5 linked regions of the Homo sapiens genome follow. Changing the gene in region 4 together with the main gene of any one other region gives a genetic interaction. Each region holds a gene or a part of one and is shown on either strand. Other genes may lie near its edges. The genes, in order: MAN2A1, TRAPPC13, SEC23B, SLC30A5 and TRAPPC10.

What was found.
Region 1: changes in SLC30A5 (region 4) and MAN2A1 together harm fitness more than expected from each alone (negative genetic interaction), as found in Homo sapiens cells (one large-scale study listed by BioGRID).
Region 2: changes in SLC30A5 (region 4) and TRAPPC13 together harm fitness more than expected from each alone (negative genetic interaction), as found in Homo sapiens cells (one large-scale study listed by BioGRID).
Region 3: changes in SLC30A5 (region 4) and SEC23B together harm fitness less than expected from each alone (positive genetic interaction), as found in Homo sapiens cells (one large-scale study listed by BioGRID).
Region 5: changes in SLC30A5 (region 4) and TRAPPC10 together harm fitness more than expected from each alone (negative genetic interaction), as found in Homo sapiens cells (one large-scale study listed by BioGRID).

What each region holds. Positions count from the first base shown.
Region 1 is NC_000005.10:109,787,220-109,791,364, reverse strand, and holds part of MAN2A1 (alpha-mannosidase 2), read right to left. Parts: intron 2,432-4,145; coding exon 2,317-2,431; intron 1,906-2,316; coding exon 1,838-1,905; intron 1-1,837. UniProt on the Homo sapiens protein: Catalyzes the first committed step in the biosynthesis of complex N-glycans. It controls conversion of high mannose to complex N-glycans; the final hydrolytic step in the N-glycan maturation pathway.
Region 2 is NC_000005.10:65,634,864-65,639,008, forward strand, and holds part of TRAPPC13 (trafficking protein particle complex subunit 13), read left to right. Parts: intron 1-437; coding exon 438-506; intron 507-1,080; coding exon 1,081-1,180; intron 1,181-2,832; coding exon 2,833-2,917; intron 2,918-4,145.
Region 3 is NC_000020.11:18,549,289-18,553,433, forward strand, and holds part of SEC23B (protein transport protein Sec23B), read left to right. Parts: intron 1-1,800; coding exon 1,801-1,887; intron 1,888-4,145. UniProt on the Homo sapiens protein: Component of the coat protein complex II (COPII) which promotes the formation of transport vesicles from the endoplasmic reticulum (ER).
Region 4 is NC_000005.10:69,128,190-69,132,112, reverse strand, and holds the end of SLC30A5 (proton-coupled zinc antiporter SLC30A5), read right to left. Parts: intron 2,667-3,923; coding exon 2,496-2,666; 3' UTR 1,044-2,495; downstream 1-1,043. UniProt on the Homo sapiens protein: Together with SLC30A6 forms a functional proton-coupled zinc ion antiporter mediating zinc entry into the lumen of organelles along the secretory pathway.
Region 5 is NC_000021.9:44,098,985-44,103,129, forward strand, and holds part of TRAPPC10 (trafficking protein particle complex subunit 10), read left to right. Parts: exon of another isoform or gene 1-95; intron 96-112; coding exon of another isoform or gene 113-192; exon of another isoform or gene 193-1,082; intron 1,083-3,793; coding exon 3,794-3,988; intron 3,989-4,145. UniProt on the Homo sapiens protein: Specific subunit of the TRAPP (transport protein particle) II complex, a highly conserved vesicle tethering complex that functions in late Golgi trafficking as a membrane tether.

The sequences.
Region 1 (4,145 bases), about 41 Mb from region 4:
ACAGATCAGTAACTAAAATAATTTGCAGCTAACAAGTAAAATAGAGATTTTAAAACCTAAAATCTAAGAAGCCCTAACCTATAAAATGGATAATAAGCATAAAAACAAATAAGAATCTGCCAATCAGAAGTATTCCTAATTTACCAACCTACAGAAATAGGAAGTCAATATTTGATAAAAAAAGAACTGTAAAGAAGTAATAGGAAGATAAACCCTATACTATTTAAATAAAAACTATTTAAAAAGAAATATCAAAAAGCAATCATTTTACTAATAGCCCCCGAAATTCCATTTATGTTTACCTGTAGTTAAAACTCCTCAATATGAAAGCTTAAAAATATTTTTCTCTTTCATTAATATACTACATTTCCTAACTTTCTTCTTCTGGCATTAGAAAGGCAAAATTATCAATTATTGTTTGCTAAGGCAAAGACAGTGAAGGAAGGAGATAAACTAAAGGGAACATCTTTTCTTCTGACCTATTATGGTTCCAGCCCTGCCTCACTGCACCCAGCATAAGAGCACCCAGAGATGGGGCACAAATCACTTATATCAGCATATATTATTCTTATAACCAGCAAAAACAAAGATCTTCCTCCACCAAAATATAAAAAGAAAGAAAAGTTAATAGATGAGAGAACTATGCCTAAAGCCAAATAGATTTACTAATGCCAGAGTTTACTAGGAACACAATATTTAAGGAACAGGCATATAACCCCAAATGCATCAAAACATAACTTATTTTAAGACAAAGAAAACATTTTGTAATTTTATAAGAAATATTTCTTTCAGTGTCATTATCCTTTCATCCTAACTATGACCTGGCAATCTGAAAGCTCCTAAGGCTTCTGCCGTGTTACAGAGAACATTAGTATTACTAAAATAAAAAAACTTATTATCTCGTTCTAAGGAATAAGCTGTATACACCTTATGTCTCTACTTACTAAAGAAATTTAGACAACTAAGACTTTAGTCTATGCTTAACAAAAAGTCTCAACTTTACTAGCAACTATAAATTCTTTTTACATTCATTCCATTTATTTTTAAATAATTTTAATAAAATATATTTAGTTGAAATAATGAATTACTCTTTGAAATTATTGTTTTATCCTATAATTGGCAAGAGGAGGTACTAAATATCTTGATTCTGACAGTTAAAGGTTATATTACAAAAAATAACCACTGTGTGCCTGGGTCAACTAGGAAATGACCAACAAATATTTGGTTATTAAAAACAGATACCTTGCTGTTTAAAGAAATACCAATAAAACATAATGCATTTCTTTATAATTATTAGGTAGCCACCAATTAAATGCCCTGGTTTAAGGTCACTGAACACCCTTCCCATTTACTTTAGCATAAATCAATAGTGCTAAAACAAGGCTGTTTCACCAGCAAAATGACAGTTATCTAATAAACAATTTACAGTAGAAACCTTGATCTTCCAATAATAATAAAGTTTCTTCTTTCATATAAAAATAGGATCAGGGATTAATGAAAACAAGGTAGTTAAATGAAAGGTTAATCAAGAAAGGATATAATCTGAAAATTTTATAGAGATAAGAAAATGTTTTATAAGCTATATATTTATCATGCTATACCTTATATCTGTGAGAAATATTGTTATAATAATTTATTCAGCAGTCAATATACTAAGCACTGTGTTAGCTATTGGCACTGAGCATAACACAGTCATGAAAGAAAATCCATTTTTTAGGAGTTTTTTAATTAATAAATTGATTGCCTCAAAATATACGCTAACTAAAAACCAGAACCATAAAACCAAAAACTATTAAGCCAGAAAGTGGTAAACATTTGTAAGAAATTATGAATTTACCTTGGCTCCGCACTCAGCCTTATTATATTTTTTTGTGGCAGAGAATCTTGTGATTTTTGTTTCAAATCCTATAAAAATGAACAGTAATTTTTTAATTTTACTTAACACTCCATGGACTCATCCTGAAACCAGAAGACCATTCAAATTCAAGTTTAGGAGGAACAGATTAAGGACTTATAAAAAGTTAAATATCAAGGGGTTTCTAATTAAAGCCAAGCAAAACAACTAGTTATAATGCCCCAGTTGCCTTACTAACATCTTAATAGTATTCTAAAACCCTACATATTTCACATACTTTGAAATATTTATAGAAAAGATGAACATACAGGTAATTTATATTAAGTGATAAAAATTCTTTCAAATAATGTACAAAAAATTATATTTCAATGTCTTTTTTCATTAAGCTTCTCATCCTCTTTGCTAATGCAAGAACAATGGAATTACACATTTTTATGATGACCATAGATGAAATTACTAACCATCTCCAGGAAGGTATCAGGAGAGTAAGAGTCGTATGTGAGTTTGTCCTTCAAAATAAGAAGAAATGCAGAATTTCCAATTATCTTCTCCAAAACCATTAACGAATGAAAAAGTCTGTAAATCAAAAATTTTATTAGTCTGAGAAACAATTTAAAAATCTGCATACAATATTTTCAGTTTCATTACTAATAGCCAAACCACCAGTATCTTCATCTTGTATTCAAAGTGAAACCTATAATGAATCTATGACAAACCTGCTCTTTTTTCCCCTAGAACTAAGTACATCAGAAGATATAACTGACAAGAATCCATTTAAAACCGAAAGCTTTCTGGACACACCTGAAACACATAAACATAATCAAACTATGTATACTTTCTATGAATATCGCACCAAATAATAATATCCAGTAGGATCACCCCAATAACTTTGAAGCATTCTATCAAAAAAACAATGATTTGCTACTTTAGAAAAAGCTCTAACAAGGGTTTTAACAATGAATAAAAACATGAGATAATTCAGCTCACAAGAAAATTCAATTCGTATACAAGTCATACCCCAAGAATTAAAATAGATGTTTTGTTTAATTTAGTTTCATGTTCTTGTTCAAGAGAACCAGAACAAGAGTTTTTGACAGATGTGAATAATGAAATTGTCTTTATCCCTGTTAAATTTTTTGGTCACTGAAATTACTAACTATATTCAAATTGTATTTTTATGTCTAAGGAATCAAAAGTCTACTGATTCCAGACCAATTCTGAAATACATCCGCTACTGCTGAAGCATTACTCATGGAAAAAGAACTTGCTTGAAGATTTTTTTTTTTTTTTCCTAATTCAGTTACGTTTCTTGAAGGCTCTACAGACCAGGCATCCATAGGCAAATTCATATTGGAGAAGTACGTAGAAACTCCTCGCTAATCACGTTTTCAATTATATTATTTTTTCCAATACAGAAAGCAACTTTGGATCTATGCCTTGAAGACATTTTTGTTGTCATGCAACAACAACAAGAAAACCTATAAAAGAAGTTAACTTCTTTTTTGCAGAGCATTAATATTTCCTTCAGAGATGTAAGTGATCATGATCAATGTTATTAATTAAATACATTTACATGGCAAATCTATAATTTTAATGCTAAAATCTTATGGATTTGAGTTCATGCCATAATCTAACTAAACTTCCCAACATATTCAAATGTTTTCCTAGACAGCATTAAGTGTTTTCACCATACTAAAACACCATACGAATATGGTTCAGTTATGACAGCAAGACCCTCAATCTAAGTTCCTTTCTATTGTCTACAGGGCTATCTTTATTAGGCAGCCTGAATCTGCAGAGTGAAAGTCATGTTCTCCACCACCTAAAACCAGATGTATTAAAGAGTCCTAATTAAACTGAGTGAAAGCCAGGATCAATGTCTGCATCCTAAAGGCACACATGCAGCCTTCTCATAAGATGAGTACTAAAGACTACAGTATATCACTCCCCAAATGTTTTCTCAGGATGTATAGAGCTGCTTTGCTTAAAACAAAACAAAATGAAACACAGTACATTTGGGAAACATTGGGTAAAACAAAATTCTAAACGTTTCAACATTTCATTAATACAGGATTTTTTTCAGGGCCTCTAATTTCCAAACATACACTTATCCTATTAATACGGAATACGGTTCGGGAAAAATCACTTGGGAATCACAGTTTCTTAGTTTGCTGTTATGGTTGTTGTATTAAGGAGATGTTAGCATGTCTGCCACTATATAGTTTGTCTACATTTTAGGACCCTCACGCTCACCCTGTGTTCCGTTTTCTCCCACCTACCTTAATTACAA
Region 2 (4,145 bases), 3.5 Mb from region 4:
ACTCCAGCCTGGGTGACAGAGTAAGCCTGTCTCAAAAAAAAAACAAAAAACACTTACTGAGTTTCCAAAGTTAATATTTTGTTGATATTGTTTATGGTGAAATCACTTAGAATTTTTTTAAAGCCTTATGCTCCTAATACTCTTTAAGCTTTAAAAATTATATTTTCCAGTTTTTCTATAATGAATGCATATTGTATTTACATTTAATTTTTATAATTCATAGGTTGTAAATAAATGGTGCTTATTTTGTAACATTACAATTCTTAATAAATCACTGATGTGTGATAACCTTAGGAAGTATGTAGTATTATATTTAGGAAGTATTTAGGTTATATTTTATGTTAGTATAAAATGGATGAATGTCATACACTAGACTTGAGAATATTAACCCTAAGCAGTATTAATGTTTTGTTTTCTTTTACTTTTTTACTTCACAGTGATGCGGCTGACTAAGCCTACTTTATTCACCAATATCCCAGTAACATGTGAAGAGAAAGACTTACCTGGTATGGCACATGCTTTCCTCTATTTGCACCTAGGGAAAGGTTGAAACCTGAATTGCCTGCATTACCTTGGACTAAGCCTAGCCCTGTAAATTTTATGCTAACCATTTGCTGGATTCTTTGTTGCCTATTTTTGTATCATGTGAAAGGTGGCCATCTGAGTAACAGGCCTTACTTATACTCTACAAGTCCAAATTATGTTGATATCCTATGGCAGTATGAGACAGTTTAAGATACATTCATATTCATAATACTATTAAAATTGCCTTTATCCTCAAATGTTGCATCAATGTATGTATTAGCATTCCCTTTTTTTTTTAAGAATTATTGGGGCTTTCTCTAGTATATTTTCTATCTCATGACGTACATTTTTCTTTGTTTCTAAAGTTTCCATTCCCTGTGAGATCAGAATTTTTTTGACATGCTTTGTTGTATTAAAATCTAGAAGTTAGACTTTTTAAATATCATCTTTGTCAAGAGGTTGTTTTTTAAAATATCTCTCCCAGCTATTTCTTTATATAAGTAAAAGTTATTTAAAGGGTAGATGTTAGAATTTTATGTTTTTCTCTTCATTCAGGAGATCTCTTTAACCAGCTGATGAGAGATGATCCTTCAACCGTTAATGGTGCAGAAGTTTTAATGTTGGGAGAAATGCTGACTTTACCACAGAATTTTGGGTAAGAATGACATATTCACATAAGAAACCTTGTAAAGCCATTACAAATTATGTTTTCAAAACAGAACCATGGGATGGGGAAATGCTCATGATACATTTACCTTTTTTTTTTTTTTTCTGAGATGGAGTCTCGCTCTATTGCCCAGGCTGGAGTACAGTGGTGCCATTTGAGCTCAGTGCAACCTCCACCTCCTGGGTTCAAGCAATTCTCGTGCCTCAGCCTTCCGAGTAGCTGGGATTACAGGCGTGCGCACCGCTCTGGCTAATTTTTGTGTTTTTATTGGAGACCGTGTTTTGCTATGTTAGCCAGGCTGACCTTGAACTCCTGACATCAGGTGATCCACCCGCCTCAGCCTCCCAAAGTGCTTGGATTGCAGGCATGAGCCACCACGCCTAGGACATGATACATTTGAGGGGCAAAAATATTATTAAAAAATCATACTATGTGATTATGGCTTTCTGTTATTAAAAAAAAAAGATATATACCAAAATAAAATGTTAATAGTGGTTCCTAGCATAATAGAATTTTAACTTTCTTCTTTAGATCTTACTATATTTTGTAATGGCCACATAGTCTTTTAACTACTAATGTAAACATCTTTTTCAGAAGCCAGTCTTTGTTTTTTTGCATCATAGTCCTCTCCCAAAATGAGTTATCAGACTTGTCAGCTAATTAGGAACTCTAAATTTATTTCTTCTGTTATCCTTAGCTGTATTATTATTCTAGATTAATAATAAGGTAGAAGCCCCTGGTTCCACTCTGTTTGCAACAGACAGAATTTGAGACAAAAAGAAATTTTACAGATTGTTTTTATAGTTTTACAGAATGTGGTCATTGACTAGTGTCTTGAAAAACTGGGAAATATATTCATGTAAAAAGTATAAAACTAAAATAAAACCACTGGTGATTTTTATTCAAGTAACCTAGGAAATAAAATAAATTGGTAAAAATACCCCAATATCAGTAACTTAGATCTCTTCTAGATTCAGGGAATAAGTTATTTCAAGAATGGAAACTTGGCTCTCTCTAACCTATTCAGATACAAATCCTAAGACTTTAGCATAGGTCTAATTTCAATGAGTCTTATCTCTAGTGAGGTTGGCATTTTGTACAGTAGTCAAAGGCCAAGATATATCATGTTCTATAGATTACGTCTGTATTTTGAATTGCACTAGGTAATGAATGAGTGGCCTAGTGTGAACAAAGGAATGTTGAAGCAGTATTTCACCAGATTTCTATCCTTCAGTAAATGTTTCTCCATTTGAAGTTCTTAGTGATTCTCAAACAGATTATTTAATGTAAAACCTGATGGGCACAGTGGCTCACGCCTGTAATCCCAGCACTTTGAGAGACTGAGGCGGGCGGATCATGAGATCAGGAGATCGAGACCATCATGGCTAACATGGTGAAACCCCGTCTCTACTAAAAATACAAAAAATTAGCTAGGCGTGGTGGTGGGTGCCTGTAGTCTCAGCTACTCGGGAGGCTGAGGCAGGAGAATGGGGTGAACATGGGAGGCGGAGTTTGCAGTGAGCCTAGATCGTGCCACTGCACTCCAGCCTGGGTGACAGAGCGAGACTCTGTCTCAAAAAAAAAAAAAAAGAAAAAAAACCTGAATGGATTTCTGCCTAAATACTTATTTTATTTTACAGGAATATATTTTTGGGAGAGACCTTTTCCAGTTATATCAGCGTTCATAATGATAGCAATCAAGTTGTAAAAGACATATTAGTAAAAGTAAGTAACATTCTTACTTGGGATGTATTTTAGTCTTTAACAAAGGTTTTTTTTTAGGCCGGGCATGGTGGCTCATGCCTGTAATCCTAGCACTTTAGGAGGCTGAAGCAGGTGGATCACCTGAGGTCAGGAGTTCAAGACCAGCCTGGCCAACATGGTGAAACCCCATCTCTACTAAAAATACAAAAATTAGCCAGGTGTGGTGGTGCACACCTGTAGTCCCAGCTACTCGGGAGGCTAAGGCAGGAGAGGCTAAGGCTTGAACCCGGGAGGTGAAGGTTGCAGTGAGCCAAGATCACGCCACTGCACTCCAGCCTGGGTGACAGAGTTAGACTCCATCTCAAAAAAAAAAAAAAGAAAAAAAGGTTTTTTTATATCTATTATGTTTTTGGCACTTCATTAAATGCACGTTTGATACAATAATTTTTAATTGTCATTAACAAGCACTAATGAATGCCTACAGTTATAAAGTATTATGTTAGGCATGAAAACATTTTTCCTATTCCACAAGATTTGTGATTGCTTGGGTGAGAAAATGTACTAGTCAAAGCTAAATAGCAGTTTAGTATTTGTTAATGTATGTCATTAACATGGAAGATGAAAGATCACTGGAGATTATGTCAATCTGGAAGGTTTCTTGGGGGAGAGGGAATGCGAAGAGGATCTTGAAAGAATGGGAGGATACAGATAACAAGGCAAGGGAGACATGGTAATCAGAGGCAGAGACATAGTGGTACACATGTGTTCTTTTAACAGTGAACAAATTTCACTTGGTAAGAGTCCGTAAGGTGGTACAGAGGAATAGTAGCTGTATTAGTCCATTTTCATGCTGCTGATAAAGTCATACCCAAGACTGGGCAATTTACCAAAGAAAGAGGTTTAATGGACTTATAGTTCCACGTAGCTGGGGACAATCATGGCGGAAGGCAAGGAGGAGCAAGTCATGTCTCACGTGGATGGCAGCAGGCAAAGAGAGAGAGCTTGTGCGGGGAAACTCCCATTTTTAAAACCATCAGATCTCAGCCAGGCGTAGTGGCTCATGCCTGTAATCCTAGCACTTTGGGAGGCCAAGGCGGGTGGATCACTTGAGTTCAGGAGTTCGAGACCATCCTGCCCAACGTGGTGAAATACCATCTCTACTAAAAATACAGAAATTAGCCAGGAGTGGTGGCGTGTGCTTGTAATCCCAGCTACCTGGGAAGCTGAGGCAGGAGAATCACTTGAACCT
Region 3 (4,145 bases), on a different chromosome or scaffold from region 4:
ATTTGCATGTAACCTTGGCACATCCTCCTATATACTTTAAATCATCTCTAGATTAGTTATAATACCTAATATAATGTAAGTACCATGTAAATAATTGTCATACTGTATGGTTTAGGGAATAATGACAAGAAAACAAGTCTGTACATGTACAGTACAGATGCATATTTTTTTCAAATATTTTCAGTCCAAGATTGGTTGAATTTATAGATGTGGAACCCACCGATACGGAGGGCCAACAGTATTCACAAAAAGTATGTAACATAATAAAATAGATAAGTCCTTATGTAAAAATGTTACATGAAAAAAAGTCAAAATAGAAACGTTTCTAAATATTCCCTGCAAAAATAAAGAACTATATGGAAAAAAACAAAATATCAATATTTGTTGTACTTGGGTACACATTTAAAAATTTTCTTTATCGAGTACCACTTACTTTTATTATTGAAATAATTACTAAAATAGCAGGGGGATCACATGACATCAGGAGTTTGAGACCAGCCTGGCCAATGTGGCGAAACCCCATCTCTACTAAACATACAAAAATTAGCTTGGAATGGCGCCAATAATCCCAGCTACTTGGGAGGCTGAGGCTGGAGAATCACTTGAACCCCGGAGGCGGAGGCTGCAGTGAGTTGAGATCGCGCCACTGCATTCCAGCCTGGGCAACAGAGCAAGACTCCCTCTCAAAAAATAAAAATAAAAAAGAAATAATTACATATATAAAAATTATATGTGTATATGTAAATATAATAAATTATATATGTATATATAAGAACTATGTATATAAATATATATGTATATGATTATATATGTATATATAAATATAAATTATATACTTATATAATATAAAATATTACTTACAAATAAATAATAAACGTATTTTTTTTTGAGATGGGGTGTCTGTCACCCAGGTTGGAGTACAGTTGTGCGATCTTGGCTCACTGCAACCTCCGCCTTCCAGGTTCAGGTGATCCTCCCACTTCAGCCTCCTGAATAGCTGGGACCACAGGCACGTGCCACTACAGCCCGGCTAATTTTTTGTGTTTTTGGTAGAGATGGGGTTTTGCCATGTTGCCCAGGCTGGCTTTGAACTCCTGGGTTCAAGTGATCTGCCTGCCTTGGCCTCCCAAAGTTCTAGGTTTACAGGCATGAGCCACTACGCCCAGCCATAATTTATATTTTGTAGTAAACTTTAAAAACTTGTATTAAATGCTGCTTTTCATATAGGTATCCGTATTCTGTCTCATCTACAGAGAATGTCTGTAGAGATTGCTAAAATACATACAAAACTGAGAATATTCAGAATTATTTTTCGTTCCAAGATCAAAAGATATCATTAAGCCTGGACAACATAGTGTGAGACCCTGTCTTTACAAAAAATAAAAAATTAGTTGGGCGTGGTGGCATGCACCTGTAGCCTCAGCTACTCAGGAGGCTGAGGTGGGAGGGTCACTTGAGCCCAGGAGGTCGAAGCTGCAGTGAGCCAGGGTCACATCACTTTACTCCAGGCTGGGTAACAGAGCAACACCCTGACTCTTAAAAAAAAAAAAGGTATCATTAATCTCCGTTCTCAATTGATGAGGAATTATTTGGAGCCTATTTTTCCTACAAAGTTGAGAATGAGTCAGAAGCAGAAAGTGGAAGTATGTCAGGAAGAAAAGGGGTGACTTACTGTGCTGGGCACCATTTGTAAATAGCCTTTGCTGTGGATACCAGGCATGGGATCAGGGTCGGGTGGAAGTGGTTGCTGTGTGGGGAGCAGGGAAGACCAATGCCATCTTTCTCTCTCTTTTTCTTCAGCCAGTACTCTTGGATAGCAGCAGCATTCTAGCTGACAGAATTTTGCTGATGGATACTTTCTTTCAAATTGTCATTTATCTTGGTGAGGTAAGATGATATTATTAATTAATTAATTTCTTTTTGTTTTTAAATTGGAGAAAAGGCATACACATTTAATGTGCACACAAGGAGAATTATTGTCCTTAACTATGGTTTTTGTTTTCTTCTCTTATTTATTAAGTTAGGTTTTTAATGACATTTGTAACCACAGTTTGGGCTTAGAAAGCACCATGGCTTTTATTCTAGTAAATCCCTGGAGTATTTGTATATTTATTAATTTTAATCATATTTGCTGTTAAGTATGGGCCAGGTGCAGTGGCTTATACCTGTAATCCCAGCACTTTGGGATGCTGAGGTGGGCAGATCACCTGAGGTCAGGAGTTCAAAACCAGCCTGACCAACATGGCAAAACCCCATCTCTACTAAAAATACAAAAGTTAGCCAGGCGTGGTGGCACACACCTGTAGTCCCATCTACTTGGGAGGCTGAGATGGGAGAATCACTTAAACCCGGGAGGTTGAGGTTGTAGTGAGCTGAGATCACACCACTGCATTCCAGCCTGGTCAACAGAGTGAAACTCCATCTCAAAAAATAAATAATAATAATAATAATATATGCTGTAAAAAAATCTCAGGTGGTTATTTTAAATCACTGTAAATTATTACCTTCGAAGTTAGGCAAAACTAGTTTTTTCTCCTCAGTAAATATTTTATACATACTGCTGTTCTTTCAGAGTTATATACATACTGCTGTTCTTTCAGAGTTAGTGTTTAGAGCTAAGGTTGTACTTTGATGAAATAACATGGCCCAGGGAACTTTACGCTGTGTCTGTGGATCCCTAGGATGGCTGTGGATAGCTTTCAGTCCATTTCTTTCTCAGTGGGGTTCATGCCCTGAGAAAGGGAATGGCTCCTCTGAATTATTTGCATCTTTATGGCAAAAAATCCTTTAATGAAGATGATGGTGATATTTATATTCAGTGATGCTTTTTCTTCTATTGTATGATCTCTACCTTCTTAAATTGGTTATTGATTTGGTTTCCTAATGGCCAACCATTAGAAATGATTTCTGATGTCGTGAAAAGATATAAATTGTGTTTCAGGATTCCTTCAGTAACTTAGGAAGTGTTAGTTTTCTAATACTCCTAAGTATTTTATAACTTTAAACTTTTTTCAGCATGTTAACACCCAGTCTGCTAGCCACTTGCACGCAAGTGCTAGGCTGTCAGTAATAGTCCTAGACTGAGAGCCGGATGACCAGCTGCTCTTCCCACTGGAACCTTTGGTATCAGTACAGTTGGCCCTCTGTATCCACGGGTTCCACCTCTGCAGATTCAATCAACTGCAGGTTAAAAATAATTTTGAAATAATAATAAAAAATAATACAAATAAAATATACAGCACAGGCCGGGTGTGGTAGTTCATGCCTGTAATCCCAGCACGTTGGGAGGCCGAGGTGGGCGGATCATCTGAGGTCAGGAGTTCAAGACCAGTCTGGCCAACATAGCGAAACCCTGTCTCTACTAAAAATACAAAAATTAGCTGGGCATGGTGGCAGACACCTGTAATCCCAGCTGCTCGGGAGGCTGAGGCAGGAGAATCGCTTGAACTCAGGAAGTGGAGGTTTCAGTGAGCTAAGATCGAGCCAGTGCACTCCAGCCTGGACGACAGAGTGAGACTCTGTCTCAAAAAACAAAACCAAAAAAACAGCACAAGAACGATTTATATAGTTTCTACATTGTATTAGATATTATAAGTAATCTAAAGATGATTTAAAGTGTATGGGAAGATGTACATCGGTTATATGAAATACTATGCCATTTTGTATGAGGGACTTGAGTATCTATGGAATTTGGTATTGGGAGGAGTGGTCTTGGAACCAATCTCACAGATACCGAGGGCCGACTGTACTAAGGATGAAGCTTTCTTTGCCTTAAGCTCATCTCCTTATCGACATTTCTTTTGCAACCCCTGATCCTGTTCATTCACTTGTTTATTGAGCACCTTCTTGTGCAAGTGAGGGGTTCTAAGGATAAAGACAGTGACATTGCTCTCACCTTCCCAAAGTCCTGAGCGTGCTGAACGCGAGTGTTCTTATGAACTTCTGGACCCTGGTGAGCTCGTGGGCATTTCCCATAGGCCAACAGTCAATCACAGCATTTAGACCTGGAAAACGGTAACTGCTACTTTGAGAAGGAGTGAGCAGGCTACAGAAGGAGGCATCTGATGAGAATCCTCTGCCTGGAGCCATATTAATGGCTCTGTTAAGACACATTGCACACTTGCTGTAGCCTCTTTCTCCATTTT
Region 4 (3,923 bases):
TGAAGTCAGGCTTAAAAAGTAACAATTCTTCGTATTTAGCCTTTTTCTTTTTTGTTTTTGAGATGGAGTCTTGCTCTGTCACCCAGGCTAGAGTGCAGTGGTGCTATCTCGGCTGCCTGCCAGCTCCGCCTCCCAGGTTAACGCCATTCTCCTGCCTTAGCCTGCCGAGTAGCTGGGACTACAGGCGCCTGCCACCACATCTGGCTAATTTTTTGCATTTTTAGTAGAGACAGGGTTTCACCATGTTAGCCAGGATGGTCTCGATCTCCTGACCTCGTGATCCGCCCACCTCGGCCTCCCAAAGTGCTGGGATTACAGGCGTGAGCCACCGCACCCGGCCTATTTAGCCTTTTTCAACTTCCACTGCATTTTCACATACATTATACCTTTTGTTCCCATATCCTGTGCTGTAAATTTGAGCAGGTTTTATATAGTTTATATATGAGGAAAAAAAAAAGATACCTCAGAAAGGCTGATTTGCCTAAAGTTGCATGAATTTTTTTTTTTTTTTTGAGATAAAATCTTTCTGTGTCACCCAGGCTGGAGAGCAGTGGTGCCATCATGGCTCACTGCAGCCTTGGCCTCCTAGGTTCAAGCAATCCTCCTGCCTCAGCCTCCCAAGAGGTATGTGCCACCATGCCCCAGCTAATTTTTAAAAATTTTTGTAGAGATGGAATCTTGCTATGTTGCTCAGGCTGTTCTCAAACTCCTGGGCTCAAGCTATCCTTTTGCTTTAGCCTCCCAAAGTGCCAGGATTTCAGGCAAGAGACACTGCACCTGGCCTAGTTGCATGATTTGCATGAGCTGAAATACAGTACCCTGGTGCTTTCAATATTAGAGTTTCCATACTTTATAATTGTACCTCCCCAACCTTCAGCCCCTGCTCTCTCTCACTCTAATATCTCACAATCACATTAATTTTTTTGCTGTTTATATGTCTTCTAAGGGAAATGACAATTTTAACTTTGGTGTAATATTTATTGCACCTATCTACTTAATTTTTTAATGTATAAAAATTGCATTAAAACATCAATATGCAATTATTTTCCCACCACTCAAAAATTTTAATATGTATTGAAGATTTTGGCCAAAAAATATGCAAAAGACAAGGAATATAAAAATAACTTACAACAAATTTCTAAAACCCCTCATATATTAAAATTGGTAAGACAAAAATATGATTTATAATACATGTTTGCCATTGTGGTATATATAAGAAAATAGTACTCATACTAAATTCAATCTACTTATCAAAATTCTTAATATAAGAATGAAAATATTCAGATGTTATAAATAGAAAGACAGGTATTAAAAAGTTTCTTTTGGACAACATTCTTTGGTGCTGATAAAACTGCATGTTATTGTCTATGGTAAAGTCTTTTCAGACTTTACTACATATCTAGTTACAACTGGAAATGAAAAAAATATAAATTAGATATGACTATAGAAAGTAGTTATAGGGTATTTTGATTTCATGGTGCTCAAATGTTTATGAACAAGTTTTACTTATTAAACTTTGAAATAACTACCTATTCTTTGATATTTCTTATATATCTATATGTTCCAGAAATTAGAAAAAAGTTACCTACATAGGCAGAGAATTCAACTGTGAGTTGACAATTATTTACGATTCTCTTAACTGGCTGTTTCACAACGTTATGGAGCTAAGAAAGGATGAAAGCTTACCACTGCTTGGATACCAGCTTGATAAGCAGCTTGGAATGTCAAATATATAACAAGAAAGGAAATATTCTACTTTAAAGGAACATGGTAAGTAAATGAATAACATGGACACAACTTAGTATAAGTTCTTTACCCTAATAAATTAATTATTCATTTGCAAATATTACCAAAAGTAAAAAAAATTTATTTTATAGAGTGGTTGATTTTTGTAATACATCAAAAACTGTGATGTTATACACTTCCCTATTCTCATTGCTTATCTCATATCAGTGGTTGAAGTTTCTCCCAAATAATTTAGTTTACATTTAAAGTGGCAATACAGATTTTACTTAATGGACTTAAGTTATAATTAGAAACCAGTTTTATATACAGAAAATCCATAAATATAGAACTTTTATTCCTATTTTATCTTTAGGCTATGCAAAAAATGGACTAAAAATTTTTCATTTGGGTCTTTGTAATAAACATGTAAATACATATTTACAATGGAGATGCTTCCTGATAGAAAGTAAACAGAAGTAATTTTGGTCTTCACTAGAATCCATCATATCTATTTTTGAAGATGATGTAATACATCATGTTTACTCAAAATTTGATTCCTTTTATACACATAATTTAAATAATTACTCCACTTTTACCATTAATGTTTCATTCTGTATTTAAATTTCCTTCAAGAAAGATTCCTTGATCCAGTAGTAGGGAACTCTGTTTCTGTACAGTTAATGTGTAATTTTTATCCTTCTGGCAATATTACAAATACTGAGTCATTTAATCTTCATTGTTTATTCTCCAGGGGTAATTCTTGAGTTATCTCACATGATGTAAGTACCATCTTTGCAGTATTTCATGGATTCCATTTGTTTTGTCATAGCCAGAACATCATGAAATCCAGTACTTAGGCCAGACATATGTTGAAAGTATGCCTCCTTTTCCACTTGAATTGTTAAATTGTTTACTCCAGCATCTTTAAGTATTCCTGTAACCTGTTATAAAAATCCAGATATTTTGAAGCATTTAGAGTAATGCATTTAGTACACACGTCTTAATATGCTGTACATAGTTGATACGGGTTGAGTATCTTTAATCTGAAAATACGAAATCTGAGACGCTCTAAAATCTGAAACTTTTTGAGTGCCAAGATGGTGTTAAAAGGAAATGCTCATTGGAGCATTTTGGATTTGGATTTTCAGATTAGGGATGCTCAACTGGTAAGCGTAATGCGAGTATTAAAAAAAATAAAATCGCAAATCGAAAACACTTCTGGTTCCAAGCATTTTAGATAAGGAATATTAAACCTGTGTCACATTTTTAAAATAGTTACAGGCCAGGCACAGTGGCCCAGGGAGGCTGAGGCAGGAGGATCGCTTGAGCCCAGGAGTTTGAGACCAGCCTGGGCAACATAGTGAGATCTTGTCTCTAAAATGAATGAGTAAACAAACAAACAAACAGTTACAGTAGTCCAAGATAAATCTTCGAAGTAATATTCATCATTTAGTTAGTTAAAATATTAGACTCTTTTAGGTCAGTAAATTACTGATTTGACATTCACAGTAGAAAAGGAAAACAGCCATTGTTTCCAATTTGGCACATCTAGAACAGGGCTTTAGTAACTATTCTGACCTCTATCTCCAAACATAGCATATACCCTGCCAAGTTGATTATTACTAATTTAGGAATATATTTATAATAACTTATTTTTTGATAATCTACTGGAAACCAAGATTAATCAAACTCATAAATGAATTTTTTTATATTAATTAAAGCTTATCCTCTAAACACAAAACTTCATTTATTTTAGCAATTTTTAGATATAAAACAAATCTAGATGTAAAAAGTAAGCTATATTACCGTTACAGATTTGGAAGATTAGGCCGGGCATGATGGCTTGCCTATAAACCCAGCACTTTGGGAGGTCGAGGCAGGCGGATCACCTGAGGTCAGGAGTTTGAGACTAGACTGGCCAACATGGCGAAACCCCATCTCTACTAAAAATACAAACAAACAAACAAAAATAGGCGGGCATGGTGACGGGTGCCTATAATCCCAGCGACTTGGGAGGCTGAGGCAGGGAGACTGCTTGAACCCAGGAGGCGGAGGTTGCAGTGGGCCGAGATCACGCCACTGCACTCCAGCCTGGGCAACAGAGTGAGACCCTGTCTCAAAAAAAAAAAAAAAAAAAGAGTTGGAAGATTGATATTTCTGAATAGTAAATGACTACTGAGCCATATAACTTATGAGGT
Region 5 (4,145 bases), on a different chromosome or scaffold from region 4:
TCCCCAGCGCTCTTGCAAGTGAAAAGGGCGTTCTGTGAAAACAGCGGCTATTTCAGCTCGCAGCACCGAGCGCTCCCCGTGTGCTTTCCCTGAGCCAGCTGTCATTCTGCAGCAGAGACCCAGAGAATGTCAAGAACACAAGCACTCAAGAATGGAAATAACTCAAACGTCCTTCAGCTCGAGAGCGGTTAAACTGGCACATCTGATTCCTCCTCAGCAGTGAAACAGAAGGGACTGTTGACACACGCAGTGCTGTGGTTGGATCTCAAGGGCATTATACTAAGAGAAAAACGCCAGTCCTATAAGGAGGTGTACTGTGTGATTCCATTTCTAAATGACATCCTCAAAATGCCAGCCTCAGAAGGAGAGCGGGTCAGTGTTCCACGGAGCAGTGGGAGGCAGCAGGAGGCCGTCCTCTGTGGTAATGGAGAGTTCTGGGCCAGGGCCGCTGTGGTTGTTACACGAATCTACACATGTGACAAATGCCATAGAATTAGACCCAAAGAATGCCTGCGAAAGCTGCTGAAATCCAGTGGGGTCTGCAGCCTGGTTCACTCTGTAGTGAAATCCAGTGGGGTCTGCAGCCTGGTTCTATCTGTATTGAAATCCAGTGGGGTCTGCAGCCTGGTCCACTCTGTAGTGAAATCCAGTGTGGTCTGCAGCCTGGTTCTATCTGTATTGAAATCCAGTGGGGTCTGCAGCCTGGTCCACTCTGTAGTGAAATCCAGTGGGGTCTGCAGCCTGGTTCTAGCTGTATTGAAATCCAGTGGGGTCTGCAGCCTGGTCCACTCTGTAGTGAAATCCAGTGGGGTCTGCAGCCTGGTTCTATCTGTATTGAAATCCAGTGGGGTCTGCAGCCTGGTTCACTCTGTAGTGAAATCCAGTGGGGTCTGCAGCCTGGGTCACTGTATGGTACCAGTGTCAGCTTCCTGTGTTACACGAGATGGCACAGTTGGGTGAAGCTGGTGATGAAGGTATGTGACCCCTCTACTACTTTTACAACTTCTTGTGAGTCTATAAACATTTCACAATTAAAAAAAAGTCTACTCAGGAGCTGAATTTAATAAAATGAGCACTTTTGACTGCTTTGTGAAGCGTGGCATTTTTTTTTTTGTTTTTTTGCTGTGAGTTCATGGTAGTAAAGAACATGAGTGACATGACTGCGCAGTCTGGCCCGAGTTCATGCCATTGTGGTTGCCCCAGCAGCGCGAGGTCAGCAGCGTAGAAAGGCAGCAGTGTGAAAGCTATGAGCTTGCGGGTGCCCTGAGAGCCACACTCTGAGAACTGTCACTCCTTTGCCTTCCTCCTGACACTCCTAGGGCCTCTGCATGTCCTGTAGTAGCTCCTGTCCTCAAAGGTCCCCCATCCCCAACTACAGGATGTCCACCTCCCTGAGCCCTTCTCTGCTGCTCGTGGCCTTCTGGTCACTCACTCCCCCTGGGCGGTTGCTCGGTATCCTCATGATGGGAAGCTGTGACCTCTTTACCAGGTCTACTGCTACTGGATGGCAAGGATCCTGTCTTGCTTACTTTCATATCTCCAGGGCTAGTCCCAGTGAATGATCACTTAAGTGTTTGAATTGCATTGAATTACATGATGGTTGTGTTTTAATAATTAATGTTAATAATAACACCTGCCATATATTAAGACACTACCATGTCCCAGGAGTGGTACTAAGTGCTTTACATACAAGGGGTCTTCAAAAAAATCATGGAAGATACGTTATGAAAAAACTATGCATGGATTTCAACACTTTTTGCACCAAAATAAGCTCCTACTCACTGAGCAGGATCTAGTTTGAGGCACTAAGAAGGATAAGACATCAGTTTTAAAAGAGCCCCTATCAGAGCAACATGAATTCTGCTAAAATTAAATCAAGAACCAACATTGGCCGGGTGCAGTGGCTCACGCCTGTAATCCCAGCACTTTGGGGGGCTGAGGCAGGCGGATCACCTGAGGTCAGGAGTTCAAGATCAGCCTGGCTAATATGGCGAAACCCCATCTCTACTAAGAATACAAAAATTAGCTGGGCGTGGTGGCAGGCGCCTATAAGCCCAGCTACTTGGGAGGCTGAGGCAGGAGAATTGCCTGAACCCAGGAGGCGGAGGTTGCAGTGAGCCAAAATTGCGCCACTGCACTCCAGCCTGGGCAACGAGCAAAACTCCGCCTCAACAACAACAACAACAACAAAACAACCAACATCAAATTTATGGTGAAGCTTGGGTGGAAGAATGGTGAAATCATTGATGCTTTATGAAAAGTTTATGAAATTCTTTGGACAGTGCCCCAAAGAATTAGTAGTTTGCAAATGGATATCTTGTTTTAAGAAGGGACGAGATGATGCTGAAGATTAAGGCCATAGCAAGCAGACCATCCACATCCATTTTCAAGGAAAAAATTCACCTTGTTCATGCCCTAATTGGAGGGAACTGACAACAGCAGAAATGACAGCCAACACCGCAGACATCTGAACTGGTTCAGCTTATGCAATTACGCCTGAAGGGTGAGCAAGCGTTCCACTCAGTGGGTGCCAAAACCCTAGTACCCAGGTCCGTGGCCGACCAGAGCAGAGCTTCCCATGGAAACTTCAAACACACGGGATCAAGATCCTGAAGCATTTACTCAAAGAACCATAACAGGAGATGCAGTGTGGCCTTCCCAGTACCATCCTGAAGACAAAGCAGACACGGCAATGGCTACCAAGAGGTGGGGTGGCCCCACCAAAGCAGAAGCAGACTGGTCAAGAGCAGAGGCCACAGCAACAGGTTTTTGGGATACTCAAGGCATTTTGCTTGTTGACTTTCTGGAGAGTCAAAGGACAGCAGCGTCTGTGTATTATGAGATTGTTTTGAGGAAGATAGCAAGAGCTTTGGTAGAAAAACCCCTGGGGAAGCTTCACCAGAGAGTCCTCCTCCACCACGACAAAGCTCCTGCTCATTCCTCTAACAAGCCCAACTTCGTGAGGGTTTCTATGGGAAATCATGAGGCATCCACCTTGTGGACCTGATTCGGCTCCTTCTGACTGATTTTGGTTTCCTGATCTTAAGAAGTCTTTAAAAGGCACCCATTTTTATTCAGCTAATAATGTAGAGAAAGACTGCGTTGACATGGCTAAATTCTCAGGCCTCCCAGTTCTTCAGGGATGGACTAAATGGCATCGTAAGCAATGGCATCATTGCTTACAAACATGTCTTGACCTTGGTGGGGCTTATGTTGAGAAATAAAGCTTATATTTTCTGTTTTCATCTTTGGATTCCATTTTTGCATGAACTTTTTGTAGTTCCCTCATACGTATTCTCTTTCCATCCTTAAAAAGCAGCTCTGTGAGGCTGGTGGTGGTCTCAGCACTATACAGCGGTCATTGAGCCTGGAGGCCTTGGGGTGCTCTTCTGAGTGGCAGAGTTGGCTTCAGACCCAGTGGTCTTGGATACTGCCACTTACCAGACAGAACCCATTAACTGCCAAAGTCACCATACTGTGGAAGATGACACAAAAATTTGAAAACAAAATTAAATCATTTATTAACCTCACAGGAAAAATGCAGTTTTCTGTACACGTCCAGCATAATTCATTCTAATCCAGAACTAATTGAAATTGGACTCAATGAAATAGGGGTTGCCACCGTGAAAGTGCATGGCTTTATCTTCAGGCGCAGCTACAAGGCACTGGGCTCTGTGTCCGCAGTGTTTTGTCAGACAGCGTTGGGTGAGAGGATTGGGTAACGACGGCCGTGACTCTCGCCTGAGTACTGGAAGGCCCGTCCTGGATGACACATCGCTTCCTCTCGTTTCAGTTGTCGACAACAGTAGCAACTGGGCAGTGTGTGGGAAAAGCTGCGGTGTCATCTCCATGCCAGTGGCTGCTCGGGCCACTCACAGGGTCCACATGGAAGTGATGCCGCTCTTCGCCGGGTATCTCCCCCTGCCCGACGTCAGGCTGTTCAAGTACCTCCCCCATCATTCTGCACACTCCTCCCAACTGGACGCTGGTAAGGACTTTGGAAGAAAAAGTTTACCTTCAGTATTTGAGCAGGTGAGCACTTTGTGCGAGAGGTGATAAACTTATGACTGAGCAGGTTGGAGAACTAGCGGCGTGTTTTCAGTGCCGGTAGAAACTGGTACTAGAAGCCTCATCCGCTGTTAGAA